Linked DNA regions of Homo sapiens: region 2 is linked to region 1. The links come from fine-mapping of genetic effects on gene expression. Tissue or cell type: amygdala. Region 1 holds a variant in brackets; the other region holds the start of a gene. All regions are shown on one strand. Distances are from middle to middle.

Region 1 (4,780 bases):
TCTTGCTCTGTCGCCCAGGCTAGAGTGCAGTGGCGCGATCTCGGCTCCCTGCAACCTCCGCCTCCCAGGTTCAAGCGATTCTCCTGCCTCAGCCTCCCAAGTAGCTGGGATTACAGGTGCCCGCCACTGCACCTAATTTTTGTATTTTTAGTAGAGACGGGGTTTCACCATCTTGGCCAGGCTGGTCTCGAACTCCTGACCTCATGACCCACTCGCCTCGGCCTCTCAAAGTGCGGGGATTACAAGTGTGAGCCACCATGCCTGGCCAAAGAAGGAAGGCTTCAGGAACTCTTAAGGGAAGACTCTTCAGGCTGGCAGGCCCCAGCACCCTCCCTCCAATAGAAGTCAGACAAGATTCACTCTGGTCCTCTCTGCTTGTCCTCTTTTCAGGGCAGCAAGATCTGCCCCACAGCAGTTTTCCTCCTGCTCTGTTACCTGCAGGGATGCAGTTAGTGTTCAAGTTACAGCAAAGAAAAAGCTGAGGACAGGAGAGGAGGAGGAAGATCTCCCAGTACTTCTGTCCCCCAAGTCCTCCCTGACTTGTCAGCCCCAGGCTGCTCTGGTGAATGCACCTTTTACTCCACGCTGTCAGCTCCAGTGCTTCATATACTCCTCTGTCCCTTGGCTATATTGAGATCCTGACGATGCCTACCAAGCTGCCTCTTATGTAGGATCCAGAACCAGTGGGATGAAAGAGCAGCAGGTAGGCTCCAAAAAGCTGATAGCACTGGGGGCTTCATGACCCATAGGACATGAGCTGGGACCCCATCATCTCCCTTCAGACTAGGGCACTTTCAGGGTCTCTCATATATAAACACACATACACACACATACACACCGCAAATGATGGGGAGGGGAGGTGGCCCCAGCATGTGGTGGATCACAGTCACTAAGTCTACTTACTTATTATTTATTTTTAAAATATATTTAAACAGCAGCAGTCACTTCCAAAATGCAAAAAAAATTACAATTTTTAGAATAAAATTATAATGTTTATAATGCGGGTCAGAAGAATTGAAGGTACAACAGAATCAAATCACGCAGCACTGGAGGCGGCTGGAGAAGCCAAAGCCCACTGGTCAGGGGTCCAAGCTGACAAGAAGTCCCAACCTGAGAGGTCTCCACACCCAAATCATACCCCTCAGCTTCCCATTGACAGAGCCAGTGTCCTCTGGGTTAGAGAAGGAGAAGCGGCAAGGAGCTGGCCCTCTGTGTGGGTGTCCCAAACCCAGTCCCCCCCATCAGCCAGGGACCTGCTAATCCACCTCCTCCATGTTGCTGTAGGTGGGGGCTGGCCGATCCACAGGGGGGGCGAAGCGTTCAGGGGCTGTCCGCGTGGGGGCCACCTCGGGGGCCTGGCCAGGGCCTAGTCCCTGCAACAGAATACGAGGACAGGGGTTGGGGGCTGCCCAGCATGCCGCCTGGCATCCCGGGGGTGCTGGCTTGGAGCCCTGGCACCCAAGGGAGGGTCCCAAGGCAGGCGCAGACAGCAGCGGCGTTGAGACAGAGAGACGAGATTGGGCCTGAATAGTCTGGTTTTATTAACACTTTTAAGTACAGGAAGTAGCTTGGGCAGGGCCAAGCCTGAGGCCAAGGGTCAGAGCAGCAGGATGAATGGACAGACAGCCAGATGGATACACACCCTAGGATACTCTGCCCCTGCAGGGGCCACAACCTCCCCACCCTCTCCCACCAGATGCATAAGCTGAGGCCCAAAGCCCAGAGGTGTTCCCCACAACAAAGGCAGGCATGGCCTGGGGCAGGCAGGTAGGCCAGCTCACAGCAGCTGCCTGCAGGCGAGCTCATCTCCAGCGACTCTGGGATACCAGAGGATAGAACACGTTGAGCACGAGGGCCACCAAAGCCGCCACGGTGCCCAGGACAAAGTACCGGAGGCAGCCCTCATCTGGTGTGGTAGGGCCACGTGGTAGGGGGCCCACCCAGTCTTGGGGCCCCCAGGGACCCAGGGGCCCAGACCCCTCAGGCACCGGCTCCTCCTCAGCCTCCAGCTCCTGCCAAATCCGGGAAGCCTAGGGTATGTGGAAACGGCCATCAGCACCCCGGGGG[T/G]GGGGAGGACCCAGTGTCCCTGAGACCCTTAGCCATGACAGTCCCACCTGGGGTGACTGGGGCTAACACCCTGCATTCTAGATCAAACAGCAAGGAGGAAGGCAGGCAGCCAACCTCAGGGCTGTCCAGAGTAAGAGCACAAGGGTAAGAGAATCTTGACAGCATTTTGGCCTACCCTAAACAGCTCTCAATCCACATGCAGCTCCGCATGGAGGTGGGAGGGGAGTTATCTGGTTAGTATTTCAGTCCAGGCCTCCCCAAAGGACACCGATTCATAGAGAACAGGACTGCCAATCCCAGAGCAATCTCCTTGCTCCTTCCCACCCATACCCAGATCCTGACCAGTCTTCTGCAAGGATTTCTCTAAGCTTGACAGAGAAGGCTCAAGAGAGGATGGAGCCAGAAAGGAGACGGCCAGTCCAGAAAAGAGATGTGCCTACGCCCACTAACTGGGCCTATGGCACACCATGTCACTAAAGAGAAGATCCTGAAGGCTCAGCAAAGACAGATGCTTACCTCAAAGAGTATAACAGCCACCAGAGGCCATGGCCAGCCCAAATAGGCCTTGTCTTGAGTGCACACTAGAACTCAGGGACATCACAAGTGAGGGTGTGTGGGCCAGCATGTGGGGAATGTGCAGAGGAAATCTAGGAGAGTGTCAGGTATAGTTCATTCACAGCATAGTGCCCAGTGAGGTTCAGAGCAGTTGCCTGACCTGTGCCAAGTAGGTGCCAATGTGCTTGCCAGTGGCAGCATGTTAGTGTACTTGTATGTTTGTTAGTGTCCCCAAGGCATGGGGATGCCTCTGGCTAAAGCTTTGATGTTAAGAGAACTCTGCAATTCTCATGAATCCCAAGGCTCAATGGGCCTGTGGCTGGAGGAGAGGAAGCTATATCCCCCAACCCGGCCCCAGTCTGTGAACTGTCCCCCAGTATTCTGTAAAGCCTCCCACATGCCTCACCTGGCTGGCAGCAGCCTCAGCTGCAGGGCCTAGGTCTGGGTGGTGCTCAGAGTGACCTGCCCTGGGGGGCCTCTCCACAGGAGAGTTCCGCCGGCGGTAGAAGAGTACATAGGCATAACGCGTCACAACCTGGCTCTCGTCTACCGTTGTCACTGTGCTGTCATCAAACAAGCGCCAGCCTACAGCAGGGTGGGAAGAGTGTGAACAAAGTCTGCACCACCACCCCTACCACCTATCCTGCTGGCTGTGTGTGCCCTCACCCACGTCACTGCGCTGACTGCTACGATCATTGGGCAGGCGTGCACAGGCAGTGTAGTGGCCACCAATCATGCCTCCATAGTGGTTGATGACAGCATATAGATCGTAGCTGGGCAGCTGCTCCTCTTTCTGACCAATGCAGAACTTGCTCAGGTCCAGGTTCCTGCAGGTCAGGTCCAGTCAGGGAGGGGTGAGACAGGCAACAGGCGCTCAGGATGCCCATCCTGGTCCTCACACCCCACCCACAGTTACCAAGGTCCACTGCTTACCTAACAGGGAACTCCACCAAGTCATTGATCTTGTCACGCCAGATAAAACTACGAAAGGAGAAGCGCTTGAGCTGCACGATGAGAACATTTGGCAGGCGCCATAGCAACAGCTGCTTGGAGGCCTCACGGTGCTGTTTGCACTGTGGGCAGTACCTGGTGGGGACAGAGATTGGGTCAGGACCAGCAAGTCTCTCTCTTCTCCATCCTGCCCCCTTATCTACTTGCTGCTCTGTTCTCACCAGGCCTCCTCGGGTGCCAGCACCTCAGGCCGTGTGAAGAGGTTGAGGCACTGGTCCAGGGTGAAGTGGCCGGCCCGGGCAGCCTCACCGGCAGAGCCTGGATCCTCAGCACATTCCAGCTCCTTGGAGGCTACCAACACAAACTCCTGCAAGCGCTCATTGTTCCGCCAGACGAGAGCCAGGCTACAGTCGTCACCCAGCTCCAGTGGGGTGTCTCCTGGAGATTCGCAGGGAGAGAGGTCATGCAGCTGTGGAGAACAGCCAGCTCAACCCACCCCATGGCTCCCACCCACAGCCTCAGACACCTTTGTCCTCTAGCCGCTGCTCTCGGTTGGATGAATCAATTTTATAGATGAAGAACTGGGGTGTGTGGGCATTCATAGCTTCACTTGGATGCTGGTACCCAGGCACAGCAGCTGTGTGAGAACATGATAATCAAAGCTTCCCTGCCCATCAGGGCCTCACCAGGCCCACCAGGCCCTAAACAACAGCCCCCTCCATCCTCCCTTATCCTCCTCCCCAGCTTCTAGAGCCTTTCACTGGATCTTACCTTCGGGTCGGGACACCCTCTCGCCAGCTGGCAAGGAGCCAACCTCAATGGGCCCACTGGCCAGCATCTCAGAAGAAATTCCACTGGTGCTGGGCACAGGACCCCGGTCAGGGGCTGCCCACACCCGGGGAAGCCCTGTGTCCCCCTCAGCCATAGGGGTCACCAGCTGGAGCTCAGGTGGCTGAATGGGGTCTCTCTCGCTGTCCCCAGCCTCCAGGGAACCTGTGGAGAGCAGTGTGGTGCAGCCAGGGCTCTGAGACTCCAAGGCCATGCGGCCTGGCTGAAAGGGTGGCTGGAATACACTCACAGAGTACCTGGCAACAGAGAACAACGCAAGTAAGACTCCTGACCAGCCCATCTAGCACCTCTGCCCCCACCTACACCACTCTAGTCCAACCACTGGGCACTTACCGGGCATAGCCCTCTAGCAACTGAG
Region 2 (4,559 bases), 390 kb before region 1:
TACCTGTCTGTCACCTAGGAAGCTTTGAAACACAAAAGAAATCTATTATATCTGTTACACTGATTTCTAGATCTCCCAGGTCCCTGCCTTGCTCCCTCCCTACCCAGGCCCTGCATAAAAAACAAACCAAACAAACAAAAAGCTAGTTTCTACAATTGTATTAACTCTAGTCAGTGTTCTTATCCATTTCATTTCTTTCTCTCTCTCTCTTTTTTTTTTTTTTTTTGTAGAGACAGGGTGTTGCTATGTTGCCCAGGTTGATCTTGAACTGCTGGGCTCAAGTGATTCTCCATTTGATTTCTAACAATGCCTGTGAATTCTAAAGTCACAAAGCAGGTAAATCTATCGAAATGACAATGTCAGACAAGACCACAGAAAATAGAAAAAAAATTTTAAATGACAGTTAACAGTTTAACTTTTTCTCAAAAAAAAAAAAAGTTACTAGGCCATCAATTTGCCTATTATGTCAAATGTGATAAAGTATTCATTTGGCCCTTTCTAACTCTGATAGTGGCTAAAGTTAAAACAACACCCTGAAGCTTCTCTTTAAATACTTAACACCCAAGTTACACGATGCAATTATACAAACCCCACAGCAACAACCTATATAAATAAGCATCTTAGTTCACTTAAAATATTACCTGGCTACAACTGCAAATACAGCAAACATTTTAAACACTAGAATTCAACAAAATTACTGTAATCATGGTCCTCTATTAAAAATATCATAGAACCGATGATCTACAACATTTTTGTTACCACGTTCCAAAGTGCCAGTACTTTTTCTTAAAACTATTCAAGATGATTTTTTGTTCTGTGTACATTCTGCTACGGAAATGTTTAATTCCAAGCAGTGACTAGTTCTGTTTTCCCTGGTATTTAAGAGCACTGGATTTTACTGGTTTCTACATTTTATTTTCACTCACTTTTCTGCTAGTGTAGCTTAGTTGATATATGAGAACGAATACAATCCTAAAATGAAATAAGCCATTAGGATGCAAAAGACAAAAGCGGTCTGTAATCAAACGTAAAGAGTGGAAATATCACTATAAAGGTGTCCTCTTATCCATTTAAAGGCATTTTTTCTATAATAAGGTTAAGTGTGTAGATTCCCTCATCGAACACCATCTGACGGGCCCAAATGGCATTCAACACTCAAAATGGCTGCACATCTGCCGACCCCAGGTAACAGTACCTGAGGCGCTGAGCTGACTCCCTATCCAAAGATCCGGGAAGACCCCTCCACCCGCCAAATATCTGGGGAGATCGTGGCCGCCAATGACCTGGGGAGACCCCTCAATGACACCGTAGATCTTGCGCTTCCCAAGACCCGGGGAGATCTCAATGACCAGGAAAGATCCTGCCCTCCCCCAAACCCGGGAGACCCCCTCCAATGACCGGGGAGGATGCTGGACCCCCAAAACCACGGAAATCCCTCCCCCAATGATCAGAAGAAAAACCCTCCTCCCAAATGACCCAGGGAAATCGAATCCACAGGGACCCCGGGAGATTTCCCCCACAATGACCACGGAAGAAGTCTTTCCCAAATAACCTGGGAGACTCCAATGATCAGAGATCCCGTTTCCCAGTAGCCTGAAAAAATCTCCCTCAAAGCTCCTCGGGCACTAGGGCCATAGGACGCGAGCTTTACCTGCCGCCTCAGCCGGGTTCCTCGGCGTTTCCGTCCTATTGTTTCTCTCGCACCAAAATGGCTGCGGCCAGGCCGAGCCCCGCCCCCTGCACCTCGCTCCCGGTGCCCCTCACTATTGGCTCGTCCTAGGAGCTGCGCACGCGGACTGGACAGCCTGAAAGGCGCTGTTGCTAGGGTGCCAGGATTCGCTGCAGCAGCTTCCGGAAAAGGCGGTGACTGGGGGCGGGGCCAGAGAGGGCGGAGCATTGTCCTCCGTCTGGGAGGGTGGGCCGGAGGTCTGACGGGCGGTTGGGTGGATAGACTAGCTGCGGGCCGATGGACAGCAGGATACCTGGGAAACAGATGGATTGACCAACAGTCTTGGTTTGTTCAGTAGTGAGCGATTTCGCAGGATGCAGGAATTTCAATGCTAACACAGAGACAGTCCACTACAAACTGGGAAGTTGGTCACTCTAGCAGATGGACAGAAGACTGGATGTGAATAGACGGAAAGAGGGACAAAAGAGTGCCTGTAGACGGTGGACAAAGAAATGGTTATAGATACAGACAGACAGATTATTAGATATGGAAGGGTGGACAGAGAAGTGGCCATAGAGTTTTCTGGGGACTGGTGGATGACCCAGTGCCCAACCCAGCTCCCACCAAGCACCACACCACAGGGCTTGTCTGAGGCTCATTTGTCTTGGGCCTGTGTTGGACAGAAGGGCTCTCACCTGAGTGAATGTCAGCATAGCTGTGAAAGGCAAAGGAGAGGGTTAGTGCCACTGAGAATGGGCAGAGCCTCCTACCTGATCTCTGCTCTTTCTGTAAAGGAGAACAATGTTGCAGCCCTGTGTACTGGGCATTTGCAAAGGTGTAAATTCACTCATACACTTTTTAATTCAACAAGTATTTATTAAGCACTTACACTCGGTATTGGAAATACAGCAGTGAACAAAAAAGGAAAATAAATAAATATCCCTGACCTTATAACAGTGGATAGGAGAGACTTCTGTGAGCAGCTCCTCTCACCTTAGCATGTGGTTTCCAGGGCTCCATGTCCTCCTGGTTTCCTCCAGTCTCACCAGTTTCTCATCTGTGTGTTTTCTCTTTGTCTACACTCACTCTTCCAAAATCTTATCCAGGCTCATGACTTCAAATGCCACCTACATGTCAATCACTCCTAAAAGTGTTTGTCCAGTCCAGACCCTTCCTGAGTGGCAGATTCACTAGTCCCACTGTCAACTAGACATCTGCACTCTGACTTCCAGTTGCTGGCATCTCAAACGCAACTTGTGCTACCCTAACACTGGCTCATCCGCCAAACCTACTTCACCCCACTTTCCCCAAATTGAGTGATAGCATCTCAGCCCTTCTTATTGCTCAAGTCAAACACCTCAAAGTACCCCTTGACTACTCTCTTTCCCATCTATATTCAGTGCACCAGGAAGGTCTGCTGTCTCCATCAGCATCATCTACCCAGAATGAAATCACTTCTTGCCACCTCCATACCTTTCACTGAGTCCAAACTGCCACCATTTCTCTTGAGTGCAATGTCACAGCTGCCTCCTGGTCTCCTCTTGCTGCCCCTGATGCCTTCAGTCTGTTCTGCACACATCAGCCTGTGAATACATGAGTCAGATCCTCCCATTCCCTGCTCAGAACCCTGGAGTACTTCCTCCCCAAGGGAAAACCAGAGACATCAGGACCTTCATAATTCCCTATCACCCCCCCGACTGTATCTCCCCGGCCAGCTTTTGGCCTTGCTGCTCAATCTCCCAGTGTTCCTCACACATCACACCCCATGCACTCTCCTGCACAGTGTATGAGTTATGGTTGTTCCCATGCCTGGATTGCACAGATTTCCAAAGAGCTGCACCCCAGCTCTCAGAGCCCCTCATTTCAGACTGTAACCTGCCCCACTCTGCCCCCAGCACTCAGTACCACCTTTATCCCCTCATCCTGGCTCTATATGTTTCCATAGCAGTTACCACCTTCTCAGAATTTTTTTTTTTTGAGACATAATCTTGCTCTGTCACCCAGGCTGCAGTGCTATGACATTGCAACCTCCGCTTCCAGGGTTGAAGCGATTCTCATGCCTCAGCCTCCCAAGTAGCTGGGATTACAGGCGTGTGCCACCACACCCGGCTAATTTTTCTATTCTTCAATAGAGACGGGGTTTCACCATGTTATCCAGGCCAGGCTGGTCTCAAACTCTTGGCCTCAAGTGATACACACTCCTTGACCTCCCAAAGTGCTGGGATAACAGGCATTAGGCACCGTACCCGGCCGCTTCATAGCAGTTACCACCTTGGGGCCGCCCTAGCATTAATTCACTCTTCCATTCCTTTCACAAGTGCTTATCAAGGTCTGACTTAGATTAGACACCAGGGATGCAGCGTGAATAAACACAGCAAGAATTCAAATGATTTATTTGTCCGGAGGTGGGTGAGAGGCAACAGACAGTAAAAGAACAAATAACATAATTATAGGCAGAGTGACTACAATGGAGAAAAGGAACCAAGCAAAAGTGCAGAGTATGGTGTTTATGTCTAAGGCAGCAGGAGAGGTAGATCTGAGAAGGGAACATCTGAGCTAAGATCAGCCCAAAGGCACTGGCTGAGCATGGAAAGATCTAGAGGAAGCCATTTCTGACAAAAGCACAGCAAGTACAAAGACCCCGAGGAAAGAAGAAGTTTGATATTTTGAGGGAATATGAAAAAGCCACTTGGGTCTAATGGAAGAAATAGCTCAGAACTTAAGGGAAAGATGCACAGAGCTGAAAACGATGAAGGAATAGACCACAGATCTGGGGGGCAAGTCCAAGAATTCTGATGTGCAGACAGCAGGAGTCCTAAAAGGAGAAAAAGGGACAGCTGAAATGGAGGCACCAGCTAGTCAAACTACAGAAGAAAACTTTCATGACATG

The links. PIP is the estimated chance that this variant, and not a neighbour inherited with it, causes the effect.
Region 2: it holds the start of IP6K2, and the variant in region 1 is fine-mapped to the expression of IP6K2 in amygdala (GTEx, PIP 0.97).

What each region holds. Positions count from the first base shown.
Region 1 is chr3:49,107,156-49,111,935 of GRCh38, forward strand. USP19 (ubiquitin specific peptidase 19) reads right to left here. Exons shown (of 27, transcript NM_001199161.2): 20 at 4,756-4,780; 21 at 4,345-4,658; 22 at 4,100-4,210; 23 at 3,795-4,011; 24 at 3,556-3,708; 25 at 3,289-3,449; 26 at 3,029-3,207; 27 at 895-1,373. The coding sequence ends at 1,257. Among named protein-coding and RNA genes, the nearest start is that of QARS1, 4.8 kb to the left of the region's middle. The variant T/G (reference allele first, on the strand shown) is at 2,068.
Region 2 is chr3:48,715,506-48,720,064 of GRCh38, forward strand. IP6K2 (inositol hexakisphosphate kinase 2) reads right to left here and starts at 1,716. Exons shown (of 6, transcript NM_016291.4): 1 at 1,652-1,716.